Regions from separate parts of the Homo sapiens genome. Here region 2 is reported to be linked to region 1. Evidence: microRNA targets listed by miRTarBase, many of them from high-throughput screens and not tested one by one. Region 1 holds a microRNA gene; the other region holds the end of a gene's coding sequence.

What was found. The annotated mature microRNA hsa-miR-6883-5p reads AGGGAGGGUGUGGUAUGGAUGU and lies in region 1 at 3,781-3,802, shown strand. An mRNA with a match to its seed (bases 2 to 7 or 8) in the 3' UTR can be bound and repressed. Matches are read on the target gene's strand: a 7mer-m8 pairs with bases 2 to 8, a 7mer-A1 pairs with bases 2 to 7 and ends in A, and an 8mer does both.
Region 2: the mRNA of GIPC1 is a reported target of hsa-miR-6883-5p. Seed matches in the 3' UTR shown: 7mer-m8 at 10,057-10,063, 7mer-m8 at 9,763-9,769 and 7mer-A1 at 9,693-9,699.

The regions. Positions count from the first base shown.
Region 1 is chr17:8,137,770-8,148,846 of GRCh38, reverse strand. It overlaps MIR6883 (microRNA 6883), which reads left to right and starts at 3,776; the gene lies at 3,776-3,853. It overlaps PER1 (period circadian regulator 1), which reads left to right. Exons shown (of 23, transcript NM_002616.3): 8 at 61-203; 9 at 588-666; 10 at 744-850; 11 at 1,020-1,173; 12 at 1,269-1,377; 13 at 1,466-1,597; 14 at 1,845-1,950; 15 at 2,082-2,253; 16 at 2,345-2,475; 17 at 2,710-2,889; 18 at 3,854-4,096; 19 at 4,971-5,581; 20 at 6,012-6,198; 21 at 6,389-6,578; 2 more. The coding sequence ends at 7,779. TRS-CGA1-1 (tRNA-Ser (anticodon CGA) 1-1) reads left to right here and starts at 9,885; the gene lies at 9,885-9,966. TRT-AGT5-1 (tRNA-Thr (anticodon AGT) 5-1) reads left to right here and starts at 9,322; the gene lies at 9,322-9,395. RefSeq lists an enhancer at 8,280-8,958 and silencers at 9,356-9,405, 9,766-9,935, 9,956-10,015.
Region 2 is chr19:14,468,182-14,479,258 of GRCh38, forward strand. It overlaps GIPC1 (GIPC PDZ domain containing family member 1), which reads right to left. Exons shown (of 9, transcript NM_005716.4): 8 at 10,503-10,584; 9 at 9,581-10,386. The coding sequence ends at 10,235. PKN1 (protein kinase N1) reads left to right here. Exons shown (of 22, transcript NM_002741.5): 16 at 1,160-1,336; 17 at 1,571-1,633; 18 at 1,731-1,807; 19 at 1,982-2,124; 20 at 2,394-2,501; 21 at 2,590-2,670; 22 at 3,400-3,678. The coding sequence ends at 3,603. PTGER1 (prostaglandin E receptor 1) reads right to left here and starts at 7,173. Exons shown (of 3, transcript NM_000955.3): 1 at 7,081-7,173; 2 at 5,198-6,156; 3 at 4,285-4,645. The coding sequence starts at 6,139. The coding sequence ends at 4,379. RefSeq lists enhancers at 3,518-4,166, 7,158-7,826, 10,166-10,681 and silencers at 4,004-4,093, 8,243-8,725.

The sequences.
Region 1 (11,077 bases):
TGTTGGAGGAGTGGGTGGCTCTCTGTTGAAAGTCCCTAATGCTCCTCTCTCCTTTGCTAGAGGAGGTCCTGACCGGGATCCAGGGCCTCGGTACCAGCCATTCCGCCTAACCCCGTATGTGACCAAGATCCGGGTCTCAGATGGGGCCCCTGCACAGCCGTGCTGCCTGCTGATTGCAGAGCGCATCCATTCGGGTTACGAAGGTGGGCAGGTCAGGGCCCTGGCCTGGTGGGGGCTGGGAGGAAGGACATTTCCTCATGGCCAGACATGAATTTGGGAGGCATGAACCACACCCTTTGAATTTTGGAACAAGAAAAGCTATTGTAAAGATGAGGATTTGAGCTCCTCTTAGAGGTAGAGTTGAATAAGGTGCCCAAGCTAGAGGAGGGCAGAGAAGAATGCCTTGCTTGCTCTCAGTCATGTTACTGATACAGGGCATAGGATTGGCCCAGACCATCTTTGGGCCCATAGTGCCCGGGGCAGAGCTGTGTGGCAGATCATCAGCCAGCCTGGGCCCAGGCAGAGTGGAGGGCTGAGGAGTTGGGCATTCTGGACGAAACCCAGTGACCACACTCTCTGTGCCTCAGCTCCCCGGATACCCCCTGACAAGAGGATTTTCACTACGCGGCACACACCCAGCTGCCTCTTCCAGGATGTGGATGAAAGGTGAGGATAGGACCTAGAGGAGACGAGGGCAGCCAGGGCTGAGGCCACGGCCACTCTGATGCCTCCTTCCCGTTCAGGGCTGCCCCCCTGCTGGGCTACCTGCCCCAGGACCTCCTGGGGGCCCCAGTGCTCCTGTTCCTGCATCCTGAGGACCGACCCCTCATGCTGGCTATCCACAAGAAGAGTGAGTTCCTCTCGCCCTGCTCGCCCTTCCCACTGTCCTGGGCTTTTGAGTGGCTGCCCTTGTGGTTGTGTCTCTTGGTGCCTTGGTCTCCTGGATCTCTAGTGGCATGGCCTCCCTCTTACTCAGCTCTCCCTCCCTTTGACCGCTCCTCCTTTCCCACTTCCATCAGTTCTGCAGTTGGCGGGCCAGCCCTTTGACCACTCCCCTATCCGCTTCTGTGCCCGCAACGGGGAGTATGTCACCATGGACACCAGCTGGGCTGGCTTTGTGCACCCCTGGAGCCGCAAGGTAGCCTTCGTGTTGGGCCGCCACAAAGTACGCACGTAAGTGGGCCATGCCCCCGAGCTGGCGTTGGGGATAGGGCAGTGCGGTGGGGGACAGGACCGGGCCAGGGCTGGATTCACTCTTCACTCTACAGGGCCCCCCTGAATGAGGACGTGTTCACTCCCCCGGCCCCCAGCCCAGCTCCCTCCCTGGACACTGATATCCAGGAGCTGTCAGAGCAGATCCACCGGCTGCTGCTGCAGGTGAGAGTAGCGGAGAGGGAGCCTGGGAGGTGAGAAAAGGTGTGGGAAGCCGGGTCAAGCCATCTAACCTGCCCTCTCCCTGCTGCAGCCCGTCCACAGCCCCAGCCCCACGGGACTCTGTGGAGTCGGCGCCGTGACATCCCCAGGCCCTCTCCACAGCCCTGGGTCCTCCAGTGATAGCAACGGGGGTGATGCAGAGGGGCCTGGGCCTCCTGCGCCAGTGAGTGACCTGCTCCTACCTCACCCTCTAATCGCCCTTTCCCCTCTCCTTCTTGGAACCAGCACTGCCAGTCCCAGAGTCTTGCCCGATCCTCCTTTGCCCTCTCCTTCCTGCCTTTTCCTTCTTGTCCTGCTCCCATCAAGGCGTCTGTGCCTCCCCACTGGTACCTTCTTGTTTTATTGTGCCCTTGGCCCCTGACACTGGCGACACCCCCTGGTTCTGCTCACTGTGGTGCTGTGTCCCACAGGTGACTTTCCAGCAGATCTGTAAGGATGTGCATCTGGTGAAGCACCAGGGCCAGCAGCTTTTTATTGAGTCTCGGGCCCGGCCTCAGTCCCGGCCCCGCCTCCCTGGTGAGTTGATGATGATGTGTGGGTGAAGAGACAGACCTGGGGGGTCCCCTGACCTTCACCCCCAACCCATTTGCTGTTTTTTTCCATGTGAGCTTGAGAAGGCTATTTTCCTCTTTCTCTCTTTGCCCCAGCTACAGGCACGTTCAAGGCCAAGGCCCTTCCCTGCCAATCCCCAGACCCAGAGCTGGAGGCGGGTTCTGCTCCCGTCCAGGCCCCACTAGCCTTGGTCCCTGAGGAGGCCGAGAGGAAAGAAGCCTCCAGCTGCTCCTACCAGCAGATCAACTGCCTGGACAGCATCCTCAGGTAAGGCCTGCCAGGCATCTTCTCCACCTCGGGCTCTAACCCTGCCCACCCCAAGCCCTGCTCTGATGCCCTGTGCTGTGTCCATCCCCAGGTACCTGGAGAGCTGCAACCTCCCCAGCACCACTAAGCGTAAATGTGCCTCCTCCTCCTCCTATACCACCTCCTCAGCCTCTGACGACGACAGGCAGAGGACAGGTCCAGTCTCTGTGGGGACCAAGAAAGGTAAAGATCCAATGCACCCTGCTCCCACTGCCCCGTCCTGGCCTGGTGGCCCTGTGTCTTTTCCCTTCTGCTTCTGGGCCCTCTTGCTCTGCCCTGCTCTCCTCCCCAGCCTCCTGGTCTCCAGACTGTTCCCTCTGTTCCCTACCACCATCCCCTTCCCCTTTTCCCTGGGATCCTCTCTCCTGACTTCCCAGTGGGGGTGGGGATGGTAACTGGCACCATCTCTCTGCACAGATCCGCCGTCAGCAGCGCTGTCTGGGGAGGGGGCCACCCCACGGAAGGAGCCAGTGGTGGGAGGCACCCTGAGCCCGCTCGCCCTGGCCAATAAGGCGGAGAGTGTGGTGTCCGTCACCAGTCAGTGTAGCTTCAGCTCCACCATCGTCCATGTGGGAGACAAGAAGCCCCCGGAGTCGGGTATGGGTGTGGAATTGGGGGGCAGTGCTTGGGCTCCACCGGTCTCCCAGCTAGAGCTCCCTCCTGCCTTTCCCCTCCCCTCTAGGGCCTGATGGAGAGAAGGAGGCCTCCCTTGACCTGGGGCTTGGGGCTACTGCTTCTTGCTCTCCCCTCCCTGCCAGGCTTCTCGGCTTTGCCCTTCCCCTGTTCTGCTTCTCGTATTGTTACTGTCAGTTGAAACACAGAGTCTGGGATAGAGGGTTTGCCCTGAGGTGCTGACCACACAGGGTCTGAAGGCAAGGAAAATTGAACATCCCTGAAGGGTCTTTGGATATTGACCTTGAAAATCATGAGGGGCTGGGCATGGTGGCTCAGGCCTGTAATCCCAGCATTTTGGGAGGCTGAGGTAGGAGGATCACCTGAGATCAGGAGCTCGAGATCAGCCTGGGCAACATGGTGAAACCCTGTATCTACTAAAAATGCAAAAATTAGCCGGGCGTGGTGGCGCGCGCCTGTAGTCCCAGCTACTCGGGAGGCTGGGACAGGAGAATCGCTTGAACCCAGGGGGTGGTGGTTGCAGTGAGCTGAGATCGCACCACTGCACTCCAGCTTGGGAGAAAGAGTGAGACTCCATGTCAAAAAAAAAAAAAAAAAGAAACAAGAAAATGTGTGAGGGAAGGCCAAGGGGTGGGCTTCTCTTCCAATGAGAGTTGTGACGGGGTCATCCCAGTAGAGTTCCTGGCAGGGAGTGGCCACTGGAGGGGCCTGAGTATCGTCTCTTCTTCTGGGCCAGCTTTGCATGGAGAGGAGGACCCAGGGCCAGCCGTTGGCAGAGAGGTGACCAAGAAACGTACATGGAGACCAGGCTTGGCTGTGGGGCAGAGCTGCCAGGGGTTGGCTAGGCTATCAGACAGGGAGGGTGTGGTATGGATGTGTTGACCCCTGAAGTGGTTCTGATGACCTTTCCCTATCTCACTCTCCTCAGACATCATCATGATGGAGGACCTGCCTGGCCTAGCCCCAGGCCCAGCCCCCAGCCCAGCCCCCAGCCCCACAGTAGCCCCTGACCCAGCCCCAGACGCCTACCGTCCAGTGGGGCTGACCAAGGCCGTGCTGTCCCTGCACACACAGAAGGAAGAGCAAGCCTTCCTCAGCCGCTTCCGAGACCTGGGCAGGCTGCGTGGACTCGACAGCTCTTCCACAGCTCCCTCAGCCCTTGGCGAGCGAGGTAGCCACCTGGGGCCTCCTGGAGCCTGCCCTCTGCCCAGTCTAGGACTGGATTGTTGGGGGGTGGGTCTTAAGGGAGGTGTTTCTGCTCCAGGGACCCAGGCTGGTGTTGCTTCCACCACTAGGCCCTGCCTAGGGACAGGCCCCTCGCTAGCTTCTCCCCACTAGGATGGGGTTCCGGGCTGCAGCCAGAGGAGGGCAGCCTGGGGGGATGGCACTGGGATGGGCAGGCAGAGGTGCTGTCTCCAGGTAAGCGACTTCAGGCCTAGCCTGGGGGCAGGGGCAGGAAGTATGCCCACTTAGGAGTCAGTTGTCACTGATGAAGAGACATGCATAGATTCTGGGCCAACTCTGGGTGGGGTCTGGGCTTCAAGGGCAGGTGGAAGGCAGCCCCTCCAGGTGCCTGAGGGAGATCCCCTGCAGGCAGACGCAGGACTCAGGACTGGGCTTTCCAGCCCCACTCTTCACTCCATTGCAAGCTAGGCAGAATACGGCCTCGATGGGCAGGAGGAATGCCTAGGCTGGCAGTGCCCACAGGAGTTTGGCGGACCAGAGCCATCTGTCCATGTGTCCATGGACTCACCCTGCTTCCTCCATCTGCCAGCATGCCTCCATCTTCCGCACACCCCCAGCTCGACCCCTCGTGTAACCTCTCCCTGGCCTTGTTCCTTTCTCAATAAATCCCCTTGTCCCTGGCTCCTGTGATTCTTCCCTGAAGGTGCCCCACCTCCTGAGTCCCCCGTTCTGTGTGGGTTGAGAAGCTCTCTCTGGGACCTTGGCCTGTCCTCTCCCTGGTCAGCGTGTCAGGGCAGTGTGGGTAGCAGGGGTACTAACCCCAGGTTGAGGTCCTTGCTAACCCTAGTCTCTCCCCACAGGCTGCCACCACGGCCCCGCACCCCCAAGCCGCCGACACCACTGCCGATCCAAAGCCAAGCGCTCACGCCACCACCAGAACCCTCGGGCTGAAGCGCCCTGCTATGTCTCACACCCCTCACCCGTGCCACCCTCCACCCCCTGGCCCACCCCACCAGCCACTACCCCCTTCCCAGCGGTTGTCCAGCCCTACCCTCTCCCAGTGTTCTCTCCTCGAGGAGGCCCCCAGCCTCTTCCCCCTGCTCCCACATCTGTGCCCCCAGCTGCTTTCCCCGCCCCTTTGGTGACCCCAATGGTGGCCTTGGTGCTCCCTAACTATCTGTTCCCAACCCCATCCAGCTATCCTTATGGGGCACTCCAGACCCCTGCTGAAGGGCCTCCCACTCCTGCCTCGCACTCCCCTTCTCCATCCTTGCCCGCCCTCGCCCCGAGTCCTCCTCACCGCCCGGACTCTCCACTGTTCAACTCGAGATGCAGCTCTCCACTCCAGCTCAATCTGCTGCAGCTGGAGGAGCTCCCCCGTGCTGAGGGGGCTGCTGTTGCAGGAGGCCCTGGGAGCAGTGCCGGGCCCCCACCTCCCAGTGCGGAGGCTGCTGAGCCAGAGGCCAGACTGGTGAGCACTGACCCCTGCGTCTGCCTGCCAGCCCCCACCCCAGCCCCGCCCCTCTGCCACCCTGTGCTGCCTGCTGTCTCTGCCAGGCTGGCGTCTCAGCCTCCAGGAGGTGGAGGGAGTCCCCAGCTGAATTTCTGAATGAGGCAGAAATTGGCTACCTCCTCTTTGAAGGGACAGTCCTGTCTGTCTGACAGGTGGTGAGGACATCTCAATAACTTCTGAGAGAGCATCTGTCACTTGGAAAGGGTCTGGCCTCACATCCCCACTCTTCGCCAGCTTTCTTCTCTCTCAGCCTGGCCCTACTGTCACGAAGTGGGGAGCAGAGACCACTGGGGTTGGATGTGCCTCTCCCCACAACCAGTAAGAGCAGTTGAAGGGAGGCCTAGGTGCTGACCCCTCCATCCCTCCTTGCCCCCCTCCCCTCCTCCAGGCGGAGGTCACTGAGTCCTCCAATCAGGACGCACTTTCCGGCTCCAGTGACCTGCTCGAACTTCTGCTGCAAGAGGACTCGCGCTCCGGCACAGGCTCCGCAGCCTCGGGCTCCTTGGGCTCTGGCTTGGGCTCTGGGTCTGGTTCAGGCTCCCATGAAGGGGGCAGCACCTCAGCCAGCATCACTCGTGAGTACCCCGCCTCCAGCATCTCCCAGGGTAGGGCAGTGATTGGGGAGCCGGGAGCCCAGGCCCCGTCTTGGCGGAGCTTCCTAAGGCCACTGGGATGGACATGTGGCCTTTGAGGGAGGCCTTGTGAGGTCCCAGGAGTGGGCATGCAGCCGGCCTGACTCCCATTGGTCTGCCCCCCACTTCACAGGCAGCAGCCAGAGCAGCCACACAAGCAAATACTTTGGCAGCATCGACTCTTCCGAGGCTGAGGCTGGGGCTGCTCGGGGCGGGGCTGAGCCTGGGGACCAGGTGATTAAGTACGTGCTCCAGGATCCCATTTGGCTGCTCATGGCCAATGCTGACCAGCGCGTCATGATGACCTACCAGGTGCCCTCCAGGTGAGGCATTTCAGAGGCCTTCTTGGCCTTCCTTTCAGAGGTAGTAGTGGGGGCAGTTTTCTTTTCTGGGGCTGGCTCTGCCCTGGATAGGATAAACGTTTCTATCTTTCTTCCTGCTCCTTGGAGCCCTGTTACTAGTTCCTCCCAGGAGGAGAGCAGGTTTCCTGGTCTTGGAAGCCTTGACCTCGCATAGCACTAGTTTAGGGGAGGAGCATGAGGTGGGAAGCTGTGGTAGAGGAAGGATGCCAGCTTCATGGGTCCTGGTCCGGGTCCTGGATCCCAGCCTCTGCCTTCTGAACCCCTTCTTGGGCAGGGACATGACCTCTGTGCTGAAGCAGGATCGGGAGCGGCTCCGAGCCATGCAGAAGCAGCAGCCTCGGTTTTCTGAGGACCAGCGGCGGGAACTGGGTGCTGTGCACTCCTGGGTCCGGAAGGGCCAACTGCCTCGGGCTCTTGATGTGATGGTGAGAGAAGCCTGGGACGGGGAGAAAAAAGAATTGAGCTCAAGTTCAAGGGGGAGAAAAAAGAATTGAGCTCAAGTTCAAGGGGGAGAAAAAAGAATTGAGCTCAAGTTCAAGGGATCGAGGCCAAGAGCTGATCTCCTTGATGTCCTTGGATCATTAATTCTGAAGAATGTTGATTCCACTAAATTTGCTGTGGATTATAGAATATTAAGCCGCGTGAGTCTTTGCAGAACTTTTCACAGCCTATCCTATGCTAATATGCATTGTGACTGTCCTGTAACGGCATCTGGGTAGAGGGCACAAGGCACTGTCCAACCTTGTTGGACCGCAGGTGCATCTGTGTGGACTGGTGCTTCTTGGGAGTACATTTCGGGAAGCACAGTGGGCTGGGGGTGGGAAGCTGCGCTGGCAGGTTAGCAGTGAGAACCCTGTCTGACTCTCTCATGTCCATTTCTCTCACCAAGGCCTGTGTGGACTGTGGGAGCAGCACCCAAGATCCTGGTCACCCTGATGACCCACTCTTCTCAGAGCTGGATGGACTGGGGCTGGAGCCCATGGAAGAGGGTGGAGGCGAGCAGGGCAGCAGCGGTGGCGGCAGTGGTGAGGGAGAGGGCTGCGAGGAGGCCCAAGGCGGGGCCAAGGCTTCAAGCTCTCAGGACTTGGCTATGGAGGAGGAGGAAGAAGGCAGGAGCTCATCCAGTCCAGCCTTACCTACAGCAGGAAACTGCACCAGCTAGACTCCATTCTGGGACCATCTCCAGGAGTCCATGAGAGGCTTTCTTCTCCTATGTCCCAATTCTCAGAACTCAGATGTGGCTAGACCAACCAGTGGGAAACTGCCCCAGCTTCTCCCACCATAGGGGGCCGGACCCCCATCACCAGCCTAGGATCCAGGGGCTGCCTCTGGCCTCTTAGGGAGCAGAGAGCAGAACTCCGCAGCCCAGCCCAGAGGAGTGTCACCTCCCACCTTTGGAGAGGAATCCTTCCCTCCCCTGGACAAAGTTGCTGACAAGCTGCTGAAGTGGCCTCTCCATATTCCAGCTGAGCCTGAATCTGACTCTTGAGGGTTGGGGCTGCACTTATTTATTGCGGGGAGACAGCTCTCTCTCCCACCTCCTCCCCAGATGGGAGGAGAGCCTGAGGCCCAAGCAGGACCCGGGGGTTCCAGCCCCTAGCTGCTCTGGAGTGGGGGAGGTTGGTGGACCATGGAGTCCCTGGTGCTGCCCCTCAGGTGGGACCCAGGCGTTCTCAGCTGTACCCTCTGCCGATGGCATTTGTGTTTTTGATATTTGTGTCTGTTACTACTTTTTTAATACAAAAAGATAAAAACGCCCAGGACTTTGTGGAATGAAGTTTGGGGTTGGGGTGAGGGGAGCATGTCAAGGGGAGATGTGGCCCTGCTTTTGGGAAGGTTGTAGTGAGGGTGTACAGGGCCATCTCCTGACGACCCCCATTCCTCTTTTCCCCCATCCTGTCCAGGTGAGGGCCCTGCTGAGCCCGCTACGTCCACGTCCAGCTCAGACTCTGCTGTCCCCTCTAGCATGGCCTCAGCTGGGTTTGCCCTGGGAAGGAGAGCTGAGAGGTGCGTGTGGCCAAGGGCTTGGGTAAGCTCCAGCCCGGGTCACGGGTGGCCAAGGCAGAGGAACCCTGCTTAACTCCGTGGTGCCCTGAGGTATTCGAGGGTGTTTGTCTTCCTTGGCTTCCTTTTTTTTATTTGAGACGGAATTTCGCTCTGTCACCCAGCTGGAGTGCAATGGTGCAATCTCGGCTCGCTGCAACGTCTGCCTCCCGGGTTCAAGCGATTCTCCTGCCTCAGCCTCCCGAGTAGCTGGGATTATAGGTGCCCACCACCGCGCCCGGCTAATTTTGTATTTTTAGTAGCGATGGGGTTTCACCATTTTTGGTCAGGCTGGTCGCGGACTCCTGACCTTAGGTGATCTGCCCGCCTTGGCCTCCCAAAGTGCTGGGATTACAGGCGTGAGCCACCGCGCCCGGCCTTCCTTGGCTTCTTGGTCACCACACAGAGAGGGCCCTTCAGCAGGTCAGTCTAGGTAGCTAAGGGACACATGGAGTCATGTGCTCACTCATGGTTGAGTTGGCCCCAAAGGTGTGGAAGAATGGAGAAGCAAAGCATTAACCCTTTGGCTCAGAACCTGAAAGGGAAGAGGCACCTTAGGAAGGGATGAGTCACTGAGGAACCACTGCAGGCAGTTTGCTGATTTTCACTTACTGTCACCCACTAAGAGTTGATTTATCTTGAGGAACACCTGTTTTACGCCGGCGCCGTGGCTTAGCTGGTTAAAGCGCCTGTCTAGTAAACAGGAGATCCTGGGTTCGAATCCCAGCGGTGCCTGAGTTAGCGGGGAGTGATATATTATTGCTGCAAGTACACTTCTCCACTTTCAAAGGGCCTTTCTAAGAAACATTTCTTCTAGACTCTCCCTAAGATTCTTCTTACATGCCAATCCGTCTTTGGACCTCCGTTTCCCTGCACTTTTAGTGTGTATTGGAAACTACAGATTCTCACTTCGGTTTCATGAAGTAGCCTGAAGTAGGCATCTCAGGGTCTGTCCTCAAGAGTATGGAAGACAGGGCTCGGATTTGGACCCGTTTTGTTTCCATCCTATGCTCAGGGAGGAGAGGGAGAATAGGAAGGCTGCCGCTCCAATGGGGCTGCTGACGTCTGCTGGAGGGAAGGCATGGTCTGCGCCACCGAGCAGAGGCGCACGAGCGCAGACGTCTCTAGGCGGCGCGGGTGGAGCCGGGCGGAGCCGGGCGGAGCCGGCTGGAGGCGGGCGTGTTGATAGGCAGCTATAGTTGCACAGGGCCGACAGCGCACGCGGCTGTGATGGCCGAGTGGTTAAGGCGTTGGACTCGAAATCCAATGGGGTCTCCCCGCGCAGGTTCGAATCCTGCTCACAGCGTCACTAGTTTTGGTATTTAGGTATCTCGGTCTCTGGAGAAGGAAAAAGCAGTTTGTTTTCTGGTTCTTTCCTTGGAGAATCTCCCGCGTTATTCTGAGAATCTCAGAGACTCGGCCGTCAGGGACCAGCCCGCGAGCGCCCTCTTGCGATTCTCATAGTCCTATCGACCTGCAAAAACTTTTTTACTGCGGATTTCAATTCCTAACGCCACCACACTCGGGTGGCTCCTTAGTGCTACTCAGCAATCGTTACTTTCCTCCAATTCATTCACTCTCATACTGCCCCATGAGACTGTTTCATTCCTACCCTCACCTCAAACTACGAATCCCTTCTCAGCTTTTACTTCCTGATTCACTGAGAAAATAAACCATTCCGGAGTTCCCCATCAACATTCACATCGCACCTACCTACCTACCTACCTAATTGAGTCGGTGACCACGTACTCTTCTTTTCCTTCATTATTGTAGAAGAATGCTTCCACCTAAAGCCAACCCCTACTTTTACTAGATTTCCCATCCCTCTGGCCATCTCAAAGACACTGCTTTTTCCTATACCATCAAAATTTCCCTCTCAGCCGGGCGTAGTGGCTCACGCCTGTAATCTCAACACTTTGGGAGGCTTGACGGGTGGATCACTTGAGGTCAGGAGTCCGAGACCAGTGAAACCCCAATCTCTACTAAAAATACAAAATTAGCCGGGCGTGGTGGCTGACGCACGCCTGTAATCCCAGCTACTCGGGAGGCTGAGGCAGCAGAAGCTCTTGAATCCGGGAGACGAAGGTCGCGCCATTGCACTCCAGCCTGGGCAACAATAGCAAAACTCCATCTCAAAAAAAAAAAAATCCCTCTCTACTTGATTTTTCTCTTCAGCCTACAGACACTAATTTCCCCCAATTTAGAAGCAAGACAACAAAAGCTATCTTGACCCCACACGCCTGTCCAGCTACCACTCAATTTCTCTACTCCCTTCTACAGCAAACAGAGCAAGTTATCCAATTCCATCTTCCCACTCTCCTTTGGACCCTTGCTAATCAGGTGTCCACCGCCCCCATCAAAGCTGCCCTTGTTAAGGTTGCCGAATGATCATCACATTGCTAAATCTATTGACCATT
Region 2 (11,077 bases), not on the chromosome of region 1:
ACCCCCATCTTTACAAAAAATACAAAATAATTAGCTGGGTGTGGTGGCACATGCTTGTAGCCCCAGCTACTCATGAGGCTGAGATAGGAGGATCGCCTGAGCCCAGTAGGTCAAGGTTGCAGTGAGCTGAGATCGCGCCACTGCACTCCAGCCTGGGCAACACAGTGAGACCCTGTCTCAAAACAAAAAGTCACTAATACCTACTAGCCTAATACCAAGATAATAATAGCTCTTAGGAAAGTTATTCATTTGTTCCTCCATGTAGCCCTATAAGATAAATACTGATGGCACAGAGAGGTTCAGCAATTTACCCAAGGTCACACAGCCAGTAAGCAGCAGGTCCAGGATTCAAAGCTAGAGACTCAGGCTCTGAAGCCTGTGCCCTTTGTGGTGCCACCATACTGCCTCTGCTTTAGGGTCAGGTTCCTGGGTTCAAATCTCAATTCTGCAGCATGGGCTTGGAGATCCTGGGGAGGTCACTTCTCCCTTCAGAACCTCAGCTTCTTGGCTGGGCATGGTGGCTCACGCCTGTAATCCCAGCACTTTGGGAGGCTGAGGTGGGCAGATCATCTGAGGTCAGGACATCGAGACCAGTGTGGCCAACATGGTGAAACCCCGTCTCTACTAAAAATACAAAAATCAGCCAGGCATGGTGGCGGGTGCCTGTAGTCCCACCTACTTGGGAGGCTGAGGCAGGAGTATCGCTTGAACCCAGGAGGCGGAGGTTGCAGTGAGCCAAGATCGCACCACTGCACTCCAGCCTGACTCTGTCTCAAAAAAAAAAAAAAAAAAAAAAAAGAACCCCTCTTGTTGTGGAGAAGCAGAATGCTATTGCCTTCCACACATGGTTGTCAGGTGCTCTCTACACAGTGCCTAACCCCTCTAAACATTCGGTACAGGCACTGAGATTGTGCCTGGTCTTCCCAGCATCCTTTTGATAATCAGGAACCCAACTGAGAAAGACTGAAACAAGTAAAGAAATTTATTGGTCTGGATCTGAAAAGTCCAGGAGTGTGCTACCTTCAGGCATGGCTGTATCCAGGTGCTGAGATGACGTTTCTCAGTTCTGCTTCCCTCTGTATGGGCTTTGGTTGCCATCTGGGAGTCTGGAGTAAGTGGCGGCCATGGTCTCTGACTTCTATCCCCCACCCCTCCCCAGCCTGATGTGTGAGAAGCGGATATTGGCGGCAGTGACCAGTGCGGGACACCCCTTCCTGGTGAACCTCTTCGGCTGTTTCCAGACACCGGAGCACGTGTGCTTCGTGATGGAGTACTCGGCCGGTGGGGACCTGATGCTGCACATCCACAGCGACGTGTTCTCTGAGCCCCGTGCCATGTGAGCCTGGACCCCAGCCCGGGCCCCTGCCTCCCCTACAGCATCTGACACTTAGTCCCCCCGAGAGGCTGGCAGCCTGCTTCTCACCCCTCCACCCTCAGGCCTTGCTTCCCTCAGCCTCCCAGAGCTTTGGGGAGACTGGGGGGCTTTTGAGGATGTGGAAGCCAGGCTTATGTGACCCTCCCTCCTTGCAGGGTGGCCCCACCCCTCTCAGCAGCCTCTCTCTCTCTGCAGCTTTTATTCCGCCTGCGTGGTGCTGGGCCTACAGTTTCTTCACGAACACAAGATCGTCTACAGGTGTGTGCGTGTGTGCATGCATGTGCACACTGCCCGTTGTGGGGACAGGACCCAGACCCCCGCTCATCCCTCTTTCCACCCCTCCAACCCCCAACAGGGACCTGAAGTTGGACAATTTGCTCCTGGACACCGAGGGCTACGTCAAGATCGCAGACTTTGGCCTCTGCAAGGAGGGTGAGGGGCTGGCCTCTGGATTAGACAAAGGAGGGGGAAGGAATGGGGTCCCTAACCCTATTCGGGGTGCCCCCCACCCTGACCCTGGGACAGGGCTGGCTGTGTGGACAACCCCACATTGGGCTGAGTGACTCCTCTGGCCCCCATAACCTCACATGGCCTTGCTGTCCCCAGGGATGGGCTATGGGGACCGGACCAGCACATTCTGTGGGACCCCGGAGTTCCTGGCCCCTGAGGTGCTGACGGACACGTCGTACACGCGAGCTGTGGACTGGTGGGGACTGGGTGTGCTGCTCTACGAGATGCTGGTTGGCGAGGTGAGACCCCGCCCCTGTGTGTCTCGGATCTCATTGGAACCTGCGCGTGCCCAGGGTGGGATCCAAGTCTGCCTCCACCATGTGTTGTGTGATTGAGGGCTGCTGGCTCTGCTTCCCTGGCCTCAGTTTCCACATCTATAAAATGGGGCATTTCCCTGCCCAAGTAAGCCAGCACCCAAGAGCTGCAGCAGAGTGTGGGGCTCAGGCCGGGCTGGGTTTGGAGCAGCCAGAGGAGGGGCCTCGTTCACCCCGGGCCTCCCTCTCCCCAGTCCCCATTCCCAGGGGATGATGAGGAGGAGGTCTTCGACAGCATCGTCAACGACGAGGTTCGCTACCCCCGCTTCCTGTCGGCCGAAGCCATCGGCATCATGAGAAGGGTGAGGACCCCCGACGTGGGGCGGGCCTGGGGAGGGGCAGTGGGGCCCAGGAGGGGACAGATCCTGACACAGTGCTCCTTCCTCCAAGCTGCTTCGGAGGAACCCAGAGCGGAGGCTGGGATCTAGCGAGAGAGATGCAGAAGATGTGAAGAAACAGCCCTTCTTCAGGGTGAGATTCCCCACAAGGACCTCAGTGACCCCGGCCCTCCCCCAGGGCCGATTCATCACCCCACAGCAGACGGCCCCCATGCCTAGCCGCTTTGCCTCAAGGGCCTCGTTGCGCCTCAAGGGCCTCGTTGCACCTCCAGGGCAACATCGTCACCTCCTTTGACACCCCCATTTCCCTCCTCCACTTTTGTTCCCCCCAAGGACCCTCCTAATCCCACATCTCCACTTTTCCCTTTTTTTTTTTTTTTTAGCCAGGGTCTCGCTCTGTCGCCCAGGCTGGAGTGCAGTGGCTCAATCTCGGCTCACTGCAACCTCCGCCTCCCAGGTTCATGCAGTTCTCCTGCCTCAGCCTCCCGAGTACCTGGGATTACAGGCGTGCACCACTCCACCACACCAGGCTAATTTTTGTATTTTTAGTAGAGACGGGGTTTCGCCATGTTGGCCAGGCTGGTCCTGAACTCCTGGCCTCAAGTGATCCTCCCGCCTCGGCCTCCCGAAGTGCTGGGATTACAGGCCTGAGCCACCACGCCGGGCCTCCACTTTTCCTAATCCGGCTTCTCCACCAGGCTCTCGCAGGTGATCCCTCCTGAGCCCCAGTCCCCCCACCCCACTTGTCCTCTGTATGCTCACTCCTCTCCGTGGTCCCCGAGCCCCAGGACTGGTCCCCACTGCAGCACGCCCCCTCCTCAGCCTCCAGGCTGACCCTCCCCTCCGCTTCCCTCCCCTGCAGACTCTGGGCTGGGAAGCCCTGTTGGCCCGGCGCCTGCCACCGCCCTTTGTGCCCACGCTGTCCGGCCGCACCGACGTCAGCAACTTCGACGAGGAGTTCACCGGGGAGGCCCCCACACTGAGCCCGCCCCGCGACGCGCGGCCCCTCACAGCCGCGGAGCAGGCAGCCTTCCTGGACTTCGACTTCGTGGCCGGGGGCTGCTAGCCCCCTCCCCTGCCCCTGCCCCTGCCCCTGCCCGAGAGCTCTTAGTTTTTAAAAAGGCCTTTGGGATTTGCCGGATCCTTGCATCCTCCGTGTCTTCTTGTGTGCAGTCATTGGGGGTGGGGGCGTGCTTGGAGGTGTGGACGTTTGCGGGGCAGGTGGCTGGGTGGTCGTGGGAGTCTCGACTGATGGGGGTGTCATCTGAAGAGGATCAAGGGGCGGCGTGGACTCGGGGCTGTTCTTATGGTGGGGAGCGTGGGTGAGCCGAGATGGGAGGGGGCGTCGGGATTGTGTTGGGGGGCGCCCAGGGGCGTGGGGCAAAATGGTTTGGGGATAGGGTTTTGGGGCTGTATTGGAAGAGCTCAAAGCCGCAGTGAGCAGAATGGTTTCGGAAGTCCGTTAGGGCAGCGGCAAGGTCAGGAAACGCCCCACACACCCTCTGTCTCTGCTCCCAGCGGAGCCCCAGCCCCGGCCGCCCGCACGGTGCGCTTGCTCCTGCGGCTCTGGCGCCCACGGGCCCGGCACCCTCGAACCTCCTAGAACCGCGCCCCCGTGTCTCCGCGCCCTCTTCTGGTAGGCCCCGGAACTGCATCCACCCTGGAGGCGCACGCGGCGTCCCTGCAGCCCCCCGCGCGGCCCCAGTGGATGCCGAAGCCCCGACGGGACACACGGTCCTGCCTGGGCTCGCAGAATGGCTTTTTATTCCCAAAGGCTCTGCGCCGCGCACCTGGGCCCAGCCCAGGGTGGGCTGGCTTAGTCGTTGGGCCTCTGGTTGTGCTTAGAAGTGGCTGAGGCCGCTGTGCCGGGAGCTGCGCAGCGAGCTGGCCTCCCAGGCGCTCGGTGTTAGGCCCAGCCCCGCGGGGCCGCCCTTGGCTCCGGCCCTCGGGGGCAAGAGGCGAAGCAGTTGGCGCAGCACGGCCTGGCGCAGTAGGATGTACACCCAAGGGTCCAGGATCTGGTTCCAGGAGGCAAGGCGCACGGCCAGGAACAGTGGCCGCTGCAGGGAGGTAGAGCTCCAGCCGCCGACGGCCAGCGCCACCAACACCTGCGGGGGAAGCCGGTGTGAGCTATAGAGCAGGCGCGGGCGCAGGGGGGCGCAGGGATGGTGGGGGCGTGGCTGGAAGGTAAAAGCCTGGGAGGAGGGGCGAGCCGTCGCAGGGAGGGTAAATGGGGATCCAGATGAGAAACGGATGCGGAAAAAAAAGGGGGGCAAAGAAACAAACACCTTCAGTGGGTGGGGGTCCGGCCGTAGAGGAGTCTCAGGTGTCCCGGAAAGAGGAAAAGCAAGGGGGTTGGGTGAAAGGACTAGGGAATGAAGCGCGGCGACTTATAACGGTGGGGCAGGAGAGGAGGCTTGTGTGGGTCGGGGTGCGCTACAAAGACCCCAAAAAGGAAGAGGAGAGGGGGGCTAGGAGGAAGGATGGGAGGTCAGATGGAGAAGGCGATGCTGGCTTTCGGGGCAGGTGGGGCCTCTAGGGGCCGGGGCCTTGGTTGAGTCCAGGATGGAGGCCCCAGGTGTCCTGGGACGACAAAGGGCGGGAGGGTGCCGAGAGGGAGCGGGAAGGAGCGTGGCTCGAGGGGCCGGTGCGCCCCTCACCAGCATTGGGCTCCAGCAGATGCACGACACCACCATGATACCGACAAGCTGGCCCACCATCTCCACGTCGTGGGCGCGAGCTCTGCGTGCCGAGCCGCTGCTCCGAGAGCCGCCAAAGAAGGTGGAGGCCGAAGCGATGGACGAGGCGGACGAGGCGGAGGCCGAGCGGGGTCCGTGCGCCCCCCAGCGACGCCGGCTGTCGGGGCCTGAGGCCGGGGGAGGCCGTCGGGAGCGGCGTCGCCAGCGGGCGCGTAGCAGGGCCAGGCCGCTGAGCGTGTTGCACACCAGCGCGGCGAGGAGCGCGACCAGGCCGAGGCTGGCGAAGAGGCCAGCAAGCAGTGCCTGGCGCCAGCCGCCCGGGGGACCCAGGCCGATGAAGCACCACGTGCCCGGGTACTGCAGCTCATAGCGGCCCACGCGCGCCAGCGGCAGCAGCGCCACGGCCAAGGCCACCGCGGCCACCGCGGCCAGCGCCAGGCGCGCGCGGGCGACCGAGACCCGCGCGGCGTGGAGCAGCGGCCGCGTGACGCCCACGCAGCGCTCCACGGCCATGCCACAGCCCAGCAGCAGCGGGCACAGGCCGAAGAAGACCATGCAGCCGCCCAGGAAGTGGCAGGCCCCGCCGGCCGGAGCGCGCCCCGCAGTGTACAGACGCAGCACCAGCGCGCCCGGGATCACGTGGCCCGCCAGGTCGGTGGCCAGCAGGCTGGCCACGAACAGCAGGAAGGTGGCGGCCGAGCGGCGGCGTCGCAGGCGGCCCGCGGCCTGCGCCAGCAGCGCCAGCGCCAGCAGGTTGGACACGGCGCCCAGCGTCATGGAGAAGATGGGCAGCGCGGGCGAAGCGCCCGACGGCGGCACGGCCGACGTGTTGGGGACCCAGGGCGCCGCGCATGTGGTCGCCTCGCCCGCCAGGCTCAGGTTGAGGGGCCCGCAAGGGCTCATGTCAGGCGCCAGGGGTGCTGGATAGAGGAGAGGAGGGCAGAGTGAGGCTGGCTGGGCCCGGGCGGGGACCAGCCCACGGTGCCATCTCAGAACATCAGGGCCTGTTTGACTCCATGGCGTTCTCAGGCGGCCCCTCTGCCCATGGCAGTTGCCATGGGCAACTCCAAATGACCTGGCCACTCCATTTGGAAACCCTTCTCCCTCTCTTTTGCCTCTCACCACCCCATCTCCTGCTCCAGGGCCTCCCTCTAACCCCACTGGCCCTTTCTCTGCCCTTCATGGTTTCCTGCAAGATTCCCCCCAGCCCCGCCCTCAGGCATCTCTGCCAGTGCCTCCGACCCCCACCTTCCATTTTTACACCCAGCAAATTCCTGGGGCCTGTGGCTCCATCTGATAGCTCTCACCCATTTCTGCCACTGTGGCCCTACCTGACTTTCCCCATGTCAGCTTTACTCCAGTCCCATCCTCGATGCCCCAGCCCCATCTCTACCACCACGGGCACATCTCTCCCCACGGCCATGTCCCTGTCCCCCATGGACCCATCTCTGACCCCACATGGCACAGCCACATCTGTGCCATGGACCCATCTCTGCCCCTGCCCCATGGACCTGCCTCTGCTCCACTGCGGTCTCTCGCCAGGCCCTACCCCGATCACCTCTGCCTCACCCTGGGTGCCCACGGTTCCACTCCATATCCCTGCCCCAGAGGCCTGGAGGCGGCCCCACGACCATCCACTCTTTGATATCCTGGTGGTGAGGGCTGAAAGGGCGGAACTGCCCACCAGGCCAGATGGGAAGGGAGGATGGACAGACGGTAAGACAGGGACGCACAGATCAGGGAGAAGAGCCCGGGGACACAGGACGGACAGCAGGTGGCCATGGCCCCACCCCTTCATGCCCTCCTCCTCCCCAATCAGGGACCCTCATGTGCAACCCCCTTACCCGGCACTGCCTGGGATGTGGGGTCCCCATCACCGGCCGCTCAGCCCTGCCGCCCACTGCGCCCTGGCTCTCCGGCAAGCCGCTTCCTCCCTCCCTCTTCCTGGGGCGGCTCCTCAGCTCCTCCCGCCGCCCTTGCTGGCCTCCAGGGGCCGCTCCACCCCGCGCACGCCCGCTGGGGGCCTGGAGTGGCAGAGACCCCCCTCTCTGCTCCTGGCAATGGGCGGGGGCCACTCTGGGCCCCAGCGGCTCCCTCCACGAGGAGTGAGGCTCCCTGGAGTTGGTCTGGCCCCATGTGACCCCCTCCTCCCAGCAGGGCGGGAGCAGCCCCCTTCCCCCCCAGGATCGGGCCTCTTGCCTCATTAATAAAGCGGATAAAATCTAAACACTGGAAAATGTGAGCGTCGTCTGGGGCGGGCTGGGGCAGCTGCAGGGGGTGCCACTGCCCCCCTCCCTGGGGCTTTGGAGCTAGAGAGGCTAACTCCAATTCTGTGGGGCCAGCAATGCCCCCCCTGCCCTGCCAAAGCCTTCGTGGATGTCGGGGTGGGTGCTGGTGGGCAGGGCCTCGGGTAGACCAGCTTGGGTCAGGCCCAGCCTGGCCAGGGGATCCGCCTATTTATACAGGGGCTTAAGCCCCGGCTAGGGCCACAGCGAGTCATATCCTGGGAGGAGGCTGAAAGGGGGCAGGGGAACCAGGAGGCCTGGCGACCTGGGGACTCTCCCCAGTGACTGGCTCCTTTAAGATGGGCTGAGTGACACCTGTGACACACGTCCTAAGACACAAAGACTCGCCTCCTGCCCTGAGAAGTAGGGTCACACTGGCACAGCCTCACACCCTAAGACATACAATCCTGTCACTTACCACTCAGTTTCATCCTGTCCCCATCTCAGCACAGCCAGGTTGCTGCCGCCACATCCCTGAACTCAGGGTCTTACCCCCAGCGCCGGGACGCACCCAGAGTTACTGCCTCAATTCCAGCCCCTCCCAACACCCCAAAATGCAGCCCTCTGAGATGATCACCCGAACCACCCTCCTTAGTGCTGGGAAATAGGGTCTCACTTGGCACCCCGAGAGATACACACACGCACACACACTCCTTATTGCCAAAACTGCCCCTGACCACACTCTGTTTGACTTTCAATGACCCCTCAACAATCCCAGACAGGCCCCACCAGCACACTCCGTACACCCAAGGCACAAGAAGTGACACCCCCCGCCGCTGGACACCAGAGACCTAGCTGGCCACCCCCACCCTCACCCAGAAACAGCAACGCCCTGAGACACACACACCTGCACCCCTAGAGACCCCTAGACCTAGCCAGCACCCCCACCCAGGAAACAGCAACACCCCGAGACATACCCTGACACCCCTGAACACCCCAAGGCCTAGCCAAGCACCCCTCCTTGCCCCAGAAACAGCACCCTAAGACACACACCCCCACACCCCGGGACACCCCAAGACACAGTCACTCCGTTGCACTCCCCACCACCAGACACTGCCAGTTACACCTGCAATTGCCCTGGAACACAGAGCCGGTTATCACATCCCTTACCCACGACACAGCCCTCCCTCATTGCGTCACGAGCCATCAACACTCTTGATAGACTCACAGTGCTACCCAACACCCGAGACACACATAGCCACACCCCTTCACCACCGCAAGCGGCTCCCAGCACAGACACCTGAGGAGCCCACAGGTGCCCGGGGATGCCCTGAGTCACCAGGACTGCGGCTCCCCGACTCCACCCGGGTCTGTCCACCAACACCCAGCCCCCAGGGTCTTCCCCTTTTCCCCCTTCCCCTCTTCCTGGTGGCCCAGTGCCCGCCCGCCTTTTGGAACGAGGATTGCAAGCTGGCCTCGGACTTCCCCACAGCCTCTCGGCTCACCCCCAAGCATTCCTGTGGGGCCTTCTGGCCCAGCGCCCCTTGCTTCAATCCCTTCCCTTCCCTCCAGGTCTGGCCAGGGTCCCACCCCGCCTTTCCCTGATCACCCTCAATCCTCGAAGATGAGTGGGTTGTCAAAACAAGTATGCTGGGTTTATGTCTAGGACAAAGCAGGGTGCCCCATGGACGCCTGCGTGTCCAGCATTGGGCCGGGTGGGGTGGGGGCTGCCTCACGCCTGCCCCCAACCTCCCGGTGTAGGGGTGGGGCTCTGGCAGGCCTGAGGTTCCATCTTTCTATTTCCAAGCCAGGTTTCAATGCCCTGGTGCTCCCCACGGTCCGGGGGTTGTCACCAGCTGCAGACAGCAGCCTTGTGAAGCTCCAGGGGGTAGGAGGCCTTGTGGGAGAGGGGGCAGGATTTGAACCCTCAGTAGTCCAGGAAGCTCTGGCCCTGCCTGGAAGCCTGGTGGCCTGCAGCCAGAAGGAACAGTGGGAGGGGGCAGGTGGCTTGGTGCCAGCTCCTAATTCAATTTGGAGCCTGCGGAAGATGGATTTCAGCTGCTGAATTCTTTCTCAGCCCCAATCTTCCCCCTCTCCCACCCCGAAGCCACACAGGTCCAACAGCAGATAGATTCTTTATGTTCAAGACAGCAAATTCAGATACAAAAACCCACCGCCATCGTCCCTCCCTCCCTCCTGCTCTGGGCCAGGGATGGGCCTGGAAGGAGAGATGGGAGGTGGGGAGGAGGTTGCGGGGTTCACAGCAGACTCGTGTCAAATGCGGAGGTAACAGGCTCCACAGGGAGGGGGCTCCTCTCAGGAGGGGTGAGGGCATTATTGCATTTGCTGGGGGGAAGGACAACCCTCTCCCCTGTATTCCCTGCGTCAGGAAACTAGGAAGGTCATGACCCCCAAACAGAACCCAAGGCCCCAGGGAGACAGAGGGACCAGTTTGGCAGCTGATGGTGGAAAGTGGTGGAGGCGGGGGTGGCCGCCCAATTTGGCTGATCCCTCCCCTCCCTGTGCCTGACCCAGCTGAGGTAGGTGGGGAACAGGGCACAGGGGGGCCGGGGACCCCGGCCAGACTGGGAACCAGGGAGGGGATGGTACCGATTGGAGCGGGGCAGGGGGCCTGGCCCCACCTCCCCTCACCATCGTCCTTGGGCTGCTGAGCTAGGCTCAGGCTGGAGGCTCGGGTCCTGACGTCAGTGTCCCTGCTGGGGGCCCCCACCAGGTTGCGCCCGGGTCATCATCGCAGGGTCCGGGGGCAGTCCTAGTAGCGGCCGACCTTGGCGTCCCCAATGGCGCCCCAGACGTCAAAGACGAACTCGTCAGGGAAGGCAAAGTCACCCAGCCGTTCGTCCAGGGCCTCGGCCAGCTCATCCGGGTTCCTTTTGTCCTTTCCCAGCTCCACCATGGTGGCCGCTATTGGGGGAGGGGTCAGAACGGAGGCACAAATGACACCAGGGACCAAGGGGCTCAGGGTGGATTCGGCCCCCAGCAGACCTAGATGCCCCCTCCCCCAGGCAGCCCTCACTCACCCAGCTCCGTGTCCCTGATACCCATGTAACTCTCCAGCAGGTCATCCACCTTCTCAATGGCCTTCTCTTCAAAGGCAGAGGGCTGGGGGCCAGGGAGGGGTGACAGCGACATCATAACAATGTGAATATACATAGTAATTGGACGGACTGCCATTGTCACCACTTTACATATATTCGTATTTAGACCTCAGGACAACCCTGAGAAGGTGGTATCGGTGTTCAGCTCATCCCCATTTTACTGATGGGCAAACTGCGGCCCATGTGCCCAAGGAAGGTCCCTGGGAGCTGGGAAGTGGCAGAAGTGGACTAGAATCCAGGCTGTCTGCCCAGAGTCCCCTCAGCTAACAGGTAATGCTGCCGGTTATGAAAAGGAAGGGAGGGCTGGGCGCGGTGGCTCATGCCTATAATCCCAGCACTTTGGGAGGCCAAGGAGGCTGGATCACCTGATGTCAGGAGTTCGAGACCAACTCCTGGCCTGGCCAACATGGTGAAACCCCATCTCTACTAAAAATACAAAAATCAGCTGGGCATGGTGGTGGGCACCTGTAATCCCAGCTACTTGGGAGGCTGAGGCA